Homo sapiens: one gene and its partners. The protein of the gene in region 1 interacts with the protein of each later gene in a biochemical or structural test. Each region holds a gene or a part of one and is shown in the gene's direction. Other genes may lie near its edges.

Region 1 (3,660 bases):
TAAAATAATCTATGAAGCATTCCTTATTTCTTAACTGCTATGGTATACCAGAGTAAAACATCTTCTAGTCTTTCTCTTTTTCAGGAGATAGTAGCGAGTTACTCCTCAAGGAAGGGTAAAACAATATACTCTTTAAAATTATAATGACATGAGTTCATTTTAATATTCTAAGAAGGATTCGTTGAGCTATGTCAATTCATACAGGACTTGAAAGTGTTATGCTTAATTAGGAGATGGGTTTATTTTTAGAGAAATAGGAGATGGATATGACTCATTTCCATTTAAGCAAGGGTTGGCGGAATAATTATAGTGAAGTTGTGAAGAAACAAAGACTGAGATGTTAATTGTACTGTGAGTTGCTGCTCTGTAACCTTAGTGAAAGAATAAATGCACTTAGCTTAAGACACAGAAGACAGTAGCCCATAATTTGGAACACAGCCTTCATTTGTCAGTGCTGGCTACTTAAAATAAGAAGGAATATTCACTACTACTGTAATGTTGGATTACTTAGTCAAGCAAATGAGGTTCTTGTAGATTTAGTAGTGAGACAGAAAAACCATCTTCAGTTCTTCTAATCCTTTTTCTTTTCTATGCGTTGTAACCACAAAGTTTCCATGGGGAGTAAGGAATGTTCAGCTTTCCTAGATATGATGGATCTTAAACCTGAGTTCTTAGAGAATTGGATTTGGGAGCTTTTGTTACAGTGACAGGTCAGGGAAGACATCTACTCAAATGATTTGGGAAATACACGTGGGCTACTCATGAGAATCAGAAAGAACACACTGAAGGAGTATAGATGAACTCATCAATCTGGTACATCCTATAGTTTAGAGAAAAGTGCCATCTTGCTTGTAGTTAACTCTTGAGAAGCCTAACCTCAGGGTCACACAAGGACACACTTCATCACAGGGATTTTTTTTTTTTTTTTTTTTTTTTTTAATGTCCAAACGATAACTTACTCTCTTGGATAAGCTCAGGACGCACAAGGATTGTACACACCAACTCTGTTTCAAGTACTTTAGGTACTTTCCCTCATTTAGTAAACAGACACTTGTTGCATGGCTACTATGTGTCATCTGAAAAGACACCATCCTTACTCTCAAGTTACTCATCATTCAGGAGCAGAAACAGGCATAGATACAGGAAGTGTCATGAACTTTGTTACACCGTTACAGTAAATCCCATGGAGGGGCATCAAGGAGGTCCATGCAATTGCCAAAGAGGGTAGGGGGGAGGGGAAAGCTTCCTGAAAGAGGAGATACTCTGAGTCTTCAAAAATACATTTCTATAGTATTCAGAAAAAAGAAATTAAAACTCTATACATTGTAGATTAAAGATGTTGCCTTGGTAGCCCAGGTGTTGCCTTTAGTTTGGCAAAAGTGCTGTTGTTTGGAGCAAGTTTTTTTTACATGGTTAGTTGTTTTGGACACCAAATTCTTTTTTTTTTTTTTTTTTCAATGGAGTTTTGCTCTTGTTGCCGGGTGGGAGTGTAATGGCGAGATCTCGGCTCACTGCAACCTCTGCCTCCCAGGCTCAAGCGATTCTTCTGCCTCAGCCTCCCAAGTAGCTGGGATTACAGGCATGTACCACCACACCTGGCTAATTTTGTATTTTTAGTAGAGATGGAATTTCACTATGTTTGTCAGGCTGCTCTTGAACTCCTGACCTTGGGTGGTCCGCCTGCCTCGGCCTCTCAAATTGCTGGAATTACAGGCGTGAGCCACCGAGCCCAGCCCTGGAAGCCAAATTCTTTGTCTCCTGTATTCCAAGCCAAAAGGACATGCTTTTTGTTTGAATTGATAGGAATCCTAAATTATTGACATTAGGATAAATGCTCATTGGAAATCTATTCAAATTTTGCATTGTTTTCAAAGAGGAAAGGCTGGGGTGAGGGGTGGTGGGGAGAAATCTACATTTTCTGCCACAGCTTTATTGTGCTTTTGAATTCCCCATGTGCCATCTTCATACCCAGGATATGTTTTAACCATAATTCATTGCCTATGAAGCTAACATGAAGACGAGAGGGCAAGTTGAAATTTAAAACATGATGCCTTTGTCAGTGGGAGTCTAATTTTGGCTGGTCTATTATAGAATGCAGTTAGTCAATATGTATTCAAATATGGAATGCATATTTTCTTTGTCCCCAAAATGCTCTTTTTCGGCATTTAGTGGGAATGTAAAATATTTTAGGAATTTTTATAATGACAAAGAATTGGGGACAAATTAATTATACGATAATAAGAGGCTCTTTAAAAGTATGATATATACATACAATAGAATACTTGGCAGTCATCATCTTTAGGATAGACAGCCACATTTATCAACAGAGAAAAATGTCCATAGCATTATGTTAAATGTCAGTGAACAAAGCAGGTTACAAAAGAACATGTGGAGAATAATCTCATGAAGGTAAAATTGTAATCACGTGTGTGTGTGTGACATCTATGTTCGTTTAGATAGATTAAAAAATACCCAGAAGAATATTGAACAAATTATTAGTATAATTATCTCTACATGGTGAGGTTTCAGGTGATTCTAATATCCATCTGTTACTTTTTTGTATTTTAATTTTTGCGGTAACATTGTATTAGTTTGGCAAAAACTGCTGATTTCAAAAGAATTTTGTTTTCAAAAGAAAAAAATTAAAGTGTAATTTACTTGGTATTTACCTAAAAGCGTAGTTTTTCTTTTAGGAATACATAACCCCAAATGAAAAAGGCTTAACTGATGTCAAAGTTATCTAGAAATACAGCCAAGCAGGGTCAGAGTTGATGTGAACTGGATTCAGCCTTGATTCAAGCCTGGTCTCTTTGGGATTTCTTGTTCTTCTGCTGCCTTGGCCTGAACAGTCCCTCTCCTCCCTAATTTTTCCTTTATTCTGTGTCTCTCAACCTGCCCTGCCCTGCCCTGGCAAGCTTTGGGTGAAAGGAAGTGAGAGCCTACAGGTCCTGGCCGGGTTGCCAGTTTGGGGAGGGTGGGAAGTTGGAGAAGTGGTCACTCGCTCTATGAAGAATAGAACTCTCTAGAATCAAGCAGAACCATAGTTTTAAAGTGATTTTTTGGACATGAGACACCCACATAAGCCAAAGTGTTGACTTTTTTGTCTTCTCCATCTCATGCTTGTTTCTGTCCTCGCCATCCAGGGTGATGAGGGTGCTTAGAGAAGCATCTTCTCTCTCTCTCTCTTTTTTTTTTTTTTGGCTTTTTGGCAGAAGAGAATTCCCTCCCACGTGACAACTGCTTGAACATCAGCTGCACCAATTTTTTTCTTAGCATTGCACACGTTTATTGCATAAATGCAAAGCAACTGTGGCATCTGAAGATTTACTCCCCAGCTAAGCAGCATCCATGAGACCTGTTTGGGTGCAAAAATGATTTGGACGCTGGGTAACAAAGGTCTAGAGAAGCATCTTCTCTAAGCACAGGAGGAGGCTGAAGACCAGGAGTCTGGTCTCAGCTTGGCCAATTAGCAGCATCGCCTTAGTCTTTCTCCTCATTTGTAAAAAGAGGGGTTTACACTGAAAAAGTGTGTACAAGTTTTCTAACTTACACTATTGTATTTAACAGTTATCTATGTGCCAGCTACTTTCCAATACTGGCCTAGGATCCAGGGATCTGGAGTGAATAAATGAACTAAATCTCCCCCTTGGGGAGCTTAAA
Region 2 (2,549 bases), on another chromosome or scaffold:
TGCCTCAGTCTCCCGAGTGGCTGGGATTACAAGCGTGCTGCCACGCCCAGCTAATTTTTTATTTTTAGTAGAGATGGGGTTTCACCATGTTGGCCAGGATGCAGGATGGCTCGATCTCTTGACTTCGTGATCCGCCTGCTTCAGTCTCCCAAAGTGCTGGGATTACAGGCATGAGCCACTGCGACTGGCCCAAATAAGGTATCATTCTTACCAAAAAAATTAAAACTAAAACCAATGCAGGAACAGTGTAGTGAAATATATAAGTTATGAGTTGTAATATAGTAGAATATTACTCAACTTTGAAAAGAAAAGGATCTGTATGTACTGATATGGAACAATCTCTTAAAATATATTGTTTAAAAAAAAGTCAGACACTGAACTATGCTTCCACTTGTGTGTGTGTGGTTTTTTTTTTTTTTTTTTTTTTTTGAGACGGAGTCTCGGTCAGTCACCAGGCTGGAGTGCAGTGGCGCGATCTTGGCTCACTGCAACCTCTGCCTTCCGGTTCAAGCGATTCTCCTGCCTCAGCCTCCCGGGTAGCTAGGACTACAGGTGCGTGCCGCCATGCCCAGCTAATTTTTGTAATATTATTATTAATTTTTGAGACAGAGTATCTCTCTGTCATCCAGGCTGGAGTGTAGTGGTGCAATCTTGGCTCACTGCAAGCTCCGCCTCCCGGGTTCACGCCATTCTCCTGCCTCAGCCTCTCTAGTAGCTGGGACTACAGGCGCCCACCACCACATCTGGCTAATTTTTTGTATTTTTAGTAGAGACTGAGTTTCATTGTGTTAGCCAGGATGGTCTCGATCTCCTGACCTTGTGATCCGCCCACCTAGTCCTCCCAAAGTGCTGGGATTACAGGTGTGAGCCACCGTGCCCGGCCTCCACTTATGTTTTTAAAGGTGTTGCTATATCTATATATTTTAAATTTGCATATCATATCTCTAGATTCTAGAGATAAAATTCCTGTAGAACAGGGGTTGCAAACATTTTCTGTAAAGAGACAATAAATATGTTAGGCTTTGTGGGCCATGTGGTCTCTGTAGAAACTACTTATCTCTGCCATGGTAAGTGTGAAAACTCCCATAGGCAATATGTAAACAAATAGGCATGGCTGTGTTCCAGTACAATTTTTCTTTCCAAAGACAAGTAAGCCAGATTTGCCCCTGGGGTAGTTTTTTTGCCAGCCTTTTTTCTAGAGTTGTAATGAATATGAATCAACTGGTAGCAATGGGGAAGGGAATTTGGGTGATTAGGAGGTTCCTGGATGAGAGTGAGATTTGCTTTTCTATCCTATTACCCCTGTACTGAATGAATTTTTTAAATCTGTGCATGTATTTAAAAATATTAATTTATGAACACTAATTTATAACAGAGAGGCCGGGCGCAATTGCTCACGCCTGTAATTCCAGCACTTAGGGAAGCCAAGGCAGGCAGATCACCTGAGGTCAGGAGTTCGAGACCAGACTGGCCAACATGACGAAACCCCATCTCTACTAAAAATAGAAACATTAGCCGGACATGGTGGCGCATGCCTGTAATCCCAGATACTCAGGAGGCTGAGACAGGAAAATTGCTTGAACCCAGGAGGCAAAGGTTGCAGTGAGCTGAGATTGCACTGCTGCAGTCCAGCCTGGGCAACAGAGCAAGACCCCCATCTCAAAGGAAAAAAAAAAAAAAGGAGGCTGAGGCAGGAGAATGGCGTGAACCTGGAAGGCGGAGCTTGCAGTGAGCCGAGATCGCACCACTGCACTCCAGCCTGGGCGACAGAGTGAGACTCCGTCTCAAAAAAACAAACAGGCTGGGCGCGGTGGCTCACACCTGTAATCCCGGCATTTTGGGAGGCTGAGATGGGCGGATCATGAGGTCAGGAGATCGAGACCATCCTGGCTAACATGGTGAAACCCCATCTCTACTAAAAATACAAAAAAATTAGCCGGGCGTGGTGGCGGGCGCTTATAGTCCCAGCTACTGGGGGGGCTGAGGCAGGAGAATGGCGTGAACTCAGGAGGCAGAACTTTTAGTGAGCCAAGATCGAGCCACTGCACTCCAGCCTGGGCGACAGACAGAGCGAGACTTTGTCTCAAAAAACAAACAAACAAAAAAAAACGAAAAAAGGAAACAGTGAGAGACTTCCTCTGATGAAAATAACTAATGTGTTATTTGCTTTGTAAACCTAGTGGCGGAGAATGCAACAGTTGAGCTATGCACTGTTTTGATCCAACTTGAAGAAGCAATTAAGCCTCCCACTCTTGTCACCATTTACATGTACAAGAAAACTCCTAAGTACAGAAAGATGGAGGGATTAGGAGGGGACAAATGATTTTTGGATGGATTGCAGATTTTTCCTGTTTTGATACTTGTTTCACTGTTACAAAAAGTGTATTCTGTATTTTATTTCTGTGTCTTGTAGACTAGGCACAGTTCTTTCCCTCTTTGACCCACGCAGGAGCCTTCCCTGGTCTGTCCTTTTCATTACTTCTGTAGTTGGGCACTGTCTAGCTTCTTGAGCTACACTAGCTTTTCCTTTCTTCACATCGTAGAACTGT
Region 3 (3,660 bases), on another chromosome or scaffold:
AAAGTATATAAGAAAATTCCTACTCTCCAGAAATTTATTTACTAGTGGGACAAGTATTAATACATTATGCAGTTAATGCTAAAATAAAAGAAAGGATCACAGAGTGGAACCTCTTCAGAACCAAATAACTTCAGAAGGAATTTAACATTTTTCCACTTAAAAAAATTGTTAACAGGCATTATTATTATAAATTAGAATGCAGTTCATAGAGTGCATTTCTATTGTAGAAGTTGAATATGGGTTTCCTGAGGAGCAAGTTACTTGAATATATTAGACCCTTCTTGGTGATGTTATTTGCTGTAACTTCTCCTAGATTATTTTACAAATTATTCTACATTGGATGTAATGTTTTAAAAGTCTTATATGGTATTAAACTTGTAACAATAAAATCCATTGGCTTTTAGTTGCCATTACCCAGGGAGGAGCAATACAGCTGGCTAACAATGGTACCGATGGGGTACAGGGCCTGCAAACATTAACCATGACCAATGCAGCAGCCACTCAGCCGGGTACTACCATTCTACAGTATGCACAGACCACTGATGGACAGCAGATCTTAGTGCCCAGCAACCAAGTTGTTGTTCAAGGTAAGGGAATTCAGAATTCACAGGTGTGGTAAATTCTTCAAAATACTAAAATTTTATAAACTCACAGAAAAAGTAAGTATCATATTGCAAACCACCATTCAAATGTAGTTAACATTTCTTCAATATTGATAGTATTTTTCATGAACTCTTCCATTATTCCAATTGGACCAAAATGTCATGGCATAAAAACAACTATTTTCAGTTTTTAAAATATTGCATCTACCTTTAACATCTTTTGGGGTAGAAGAAACAGGATAGGTTAGAAGGAAAGACCAGGAAATCAGGAGTTAGAAAAGATGGATTCTGTATCTAACTGCATGGATCTGCTATGAGGCCTTGAGTAAAAGTCAGCTGCTCTGAGCCTCAGGAAAGTGTTTTGTTTTTTGTTGTTGTTGTTTTTGTTTTTTCATCTGTAAAATAAGAGTTGCACTGAATCTCTGGAAACAATCTTCAGAAGTTCAGGATTCTGTTTCTCTGCTTCCCCCCCCCCCCCCAAAAGAAATTTAAATCTTCTGAGATCATCAGTTTTTATTATTATTATTATTATTTTTTTCTAGAGACATGGTCTCACTGTGTTGCCCAGGCTAGTCTTGAACTCCGGGCCTCAAGCAATCCTCCTTTCTCAGGCTCCCAAAGTGTTGGGATGCCTCTGCACTTGACTCAGTTTTTGTTTCAAATGAAAACATTATATTCCACAGGATCTTATACCAATATGCAAATCTGCTGCTCTTTAGAGAAAAAGTAGTTGTTAAATTCTCGACAAATTATAGAAGTTGCTTTTTTTGGCTTTTTTTTTTTTTTTTTTAGTTTTTTTTTTCTGTTTATTTCAGGAATCTTTATGGATAGCAGTTAACCATTTTTCTTTGGATTTGTTTGAATATTTCAAGAATATAGTTAATGCCAGGTTAGAAATTTGCTGATTGAGGAAATAATAATAAATTTGTTTCTGAAAATATTTTTATAAATAATAATGCATTTTGCCTGTGTTAGGTAATGACAGTTGTATCCTTTCACCATGGATAATTGAATAATCCTGAAACACCAACTGGAGAGAGTCATAACTTATTTAAAGAGCCCTAATGTTTACAGAATATATTCTGTTATTAAACGAGTATTTGAAAAAGATACTATTTTGCTTATTGATGAGAGTAAAACACCTTTTCACTTTACATGCAGGTACTCAAAAATTGTAAAGCAGGATGTCAGTGAATTTGAATTCTGAACGTCAGTTTGAAGATGGTAACATGTTTAGTATATAAATCTTTTCCACTCAAACCATACATTTTAATTGATATTAATAATTAATATGAATAATTTTATAAAGACCTTCAAATTTTTTTAAGTAACATTAGGTTCCTTATTAGGAGAGCATATTATTACGCTGTTTTTAGAAGCAGTTTGACAAATAGTGATTGTGTTTGTTTTTACAAATGGTGAATCAGTTAGAAAAATAAAACTTCAGTTTATTTAGCCATTATCATTTACATTAAAACAATATGTTTTTCAAATAATATAATTGGCATCAAGTGATACACTTTTTCATACTTTTAGTTTTGTTTTAATTCAAAATTTATAATAGTTGACCATAATGCTTTATCTTCTTTTTCATTTTGCTATTTTATGAAAAATCATGGTCGTTTTTATGTCGTGGCAAGAGTCTACTTGAAATTTTTTAATATGAATTTACCAATATCAAAGGAAGACACTGAGGACTATACTCTATCTAGGAAGATCATCCAAGCTGTGCCCCACTTACCTTTTAGACTTAAGGTTGGTAAGCATGTTAACAACAGAATAGAACTGCATTCAAATGAAAAATAAAATGTAAGATCCAGCGGACATAGGTTACTGTAATAAATACATTACATTGGGAATTATTTCTTAGTAGTGGCGCGAAGAGTGCTGATTCTTTCAACGCTTTAGCCAGAATCATCTTTTCTTTTTTGTTTCCCTTTTAGTCCAAAATACATGCTTAGATTGATGATTGATACACATAATTGAATCAAGTTGCAATGTTTCTGTCTTACACCATGCTCACTGTTTTTTTCAGCTGCCTCTGGAGACGTACAAACATACCAGATTCGCACAGCACCCACTAGCACTATTGCCCCTGGAGTTGTTATGGCATCCTCCCCAGCACTTCCTACACAGCCTGCTGAAGAAGCAGCACGAAAGAGAGAGGTCCGTCTAATGAAGAACAGGTACAAATACTGCATTTACTTAGATTGTTATGTGTTAAGTGTGTCTTCACATTCTGCTGGATGTGTATCTTTACATCTACTGGTAATAGGATCTTTGCATTGAATTTTTTTTTTCCAGCAGAATTAATGGATCTTGCTAAATTTTCTTTATTTAATAAGCTGCACTTATAAGATAGCTGTATGATTATGGGTCAATCTTTGATCGTGGAGTAGTTTTCTTTCATGCAGTTTCCCCACAGGAGATTTAATGCACAACTTCCCTATGTCTGCACTCCAACCAGTTAGCCAGGTTATTTAAAAATGGTTTCTTTTCATGTATAGTATTGTTCAAGAAGATCAAGAGTTTCATATATGTATATTAACTGTGTGTTAAATTTTATCTATATTAAATTTACTTGATATAAAGTAAATGTATGGTGGCCAGTTCATGTTTTAATGAATAATATCTTTACTCAAAATAATAACATTTTAACACCTAAAGATTCTTCAAAAATATGTTAATTCTAAGAATACCATGTTACGGACAAAAATCTTAAAATATAGTCTTCAAAAAAATACTACATTCAAAATCTGTGAAATGTTGGTAAAGCAATTCTCAGAAAGTAACTTTATTGCTGTAAATGATTTTGCCGTCAAAAACAATAAAAATAAGTTACTAAATATTGGTTTAGAACTTTCATATAGAAGTGACCGAGACAAACAAAAGAAAATGAAAATAAGGTTATGTAAAGGTTTAAAAAGTTTGAAATTAGTGAAAGTATCTCACTGTTCATCCCAGGATACTTCAAACACTGATAAAGTGAAAGAAGCAGGGCTTCCAAGTCCTAGCCCTATCCCTCCATTTTGGGAGAAGGTATTAACCTTCTGTACCT

What was found.
Region 2: the proteins of ETS1 (region 1) and ARID4B form a complex in vitro, tested with the Homo sapiens proteins (one study listed by BioGRID).
Region 3: the proteins of ETS1 (region 1) and CREB1 form a complex in vitro, tested with the Homo sapiens proteins (one study listed by BioGRID).

What each region holds. Positions count from the first base shown.
Region 1 is NC_000011.10:128,577,455-128,581,114, reverse strand, and holds part of ETS1 (protein C-ets-1), read left to right. Parts: intron 1-3,660. UniProt on the Homo sapiens protein: Transcription factor. Directly controls the expression of cytokine and chemokine genes in a wide variety of different cellular contexts. May control the differentiation, survival and proliferation of lymphoid cells.
Region 2 is NC_000001.11:235,168,791-235,171,339, reverse strand, and holds part of ARID4B (AT-rich interactive domain-containing protein 4B), read left to right. Parts: intron 1-2,549. UniProt on the Homo sapiens protein: Acts as a transcriptional repressor. May function in the assembly and/or enzymatic activity of the Sin3A corepressor complex or in mediating interactions between the complex and other regulatory complexes.
Region 3 is NC_000002.12:207,574,868-207,578,527, forward strand, and holds part of CREB1 (cyclic AMP-responsive element-binding protein 1), read left to right. Parts: intron 1-404; coding exon 405-587; intron 588-1,763; coding exon of another isoform or gene 1,764-1,780; exon of another isoform or gene 1,781-1,786; coding exon of another isoform or gene 1,787-1,826; exon of another isoform or gene 1,827-2,058; intron 2,059-2,242; exon of another isoform or gene 2,243-2,357; intron 2,358-2,637; coding exon 2,638-2,788; intron 2,789-3,660.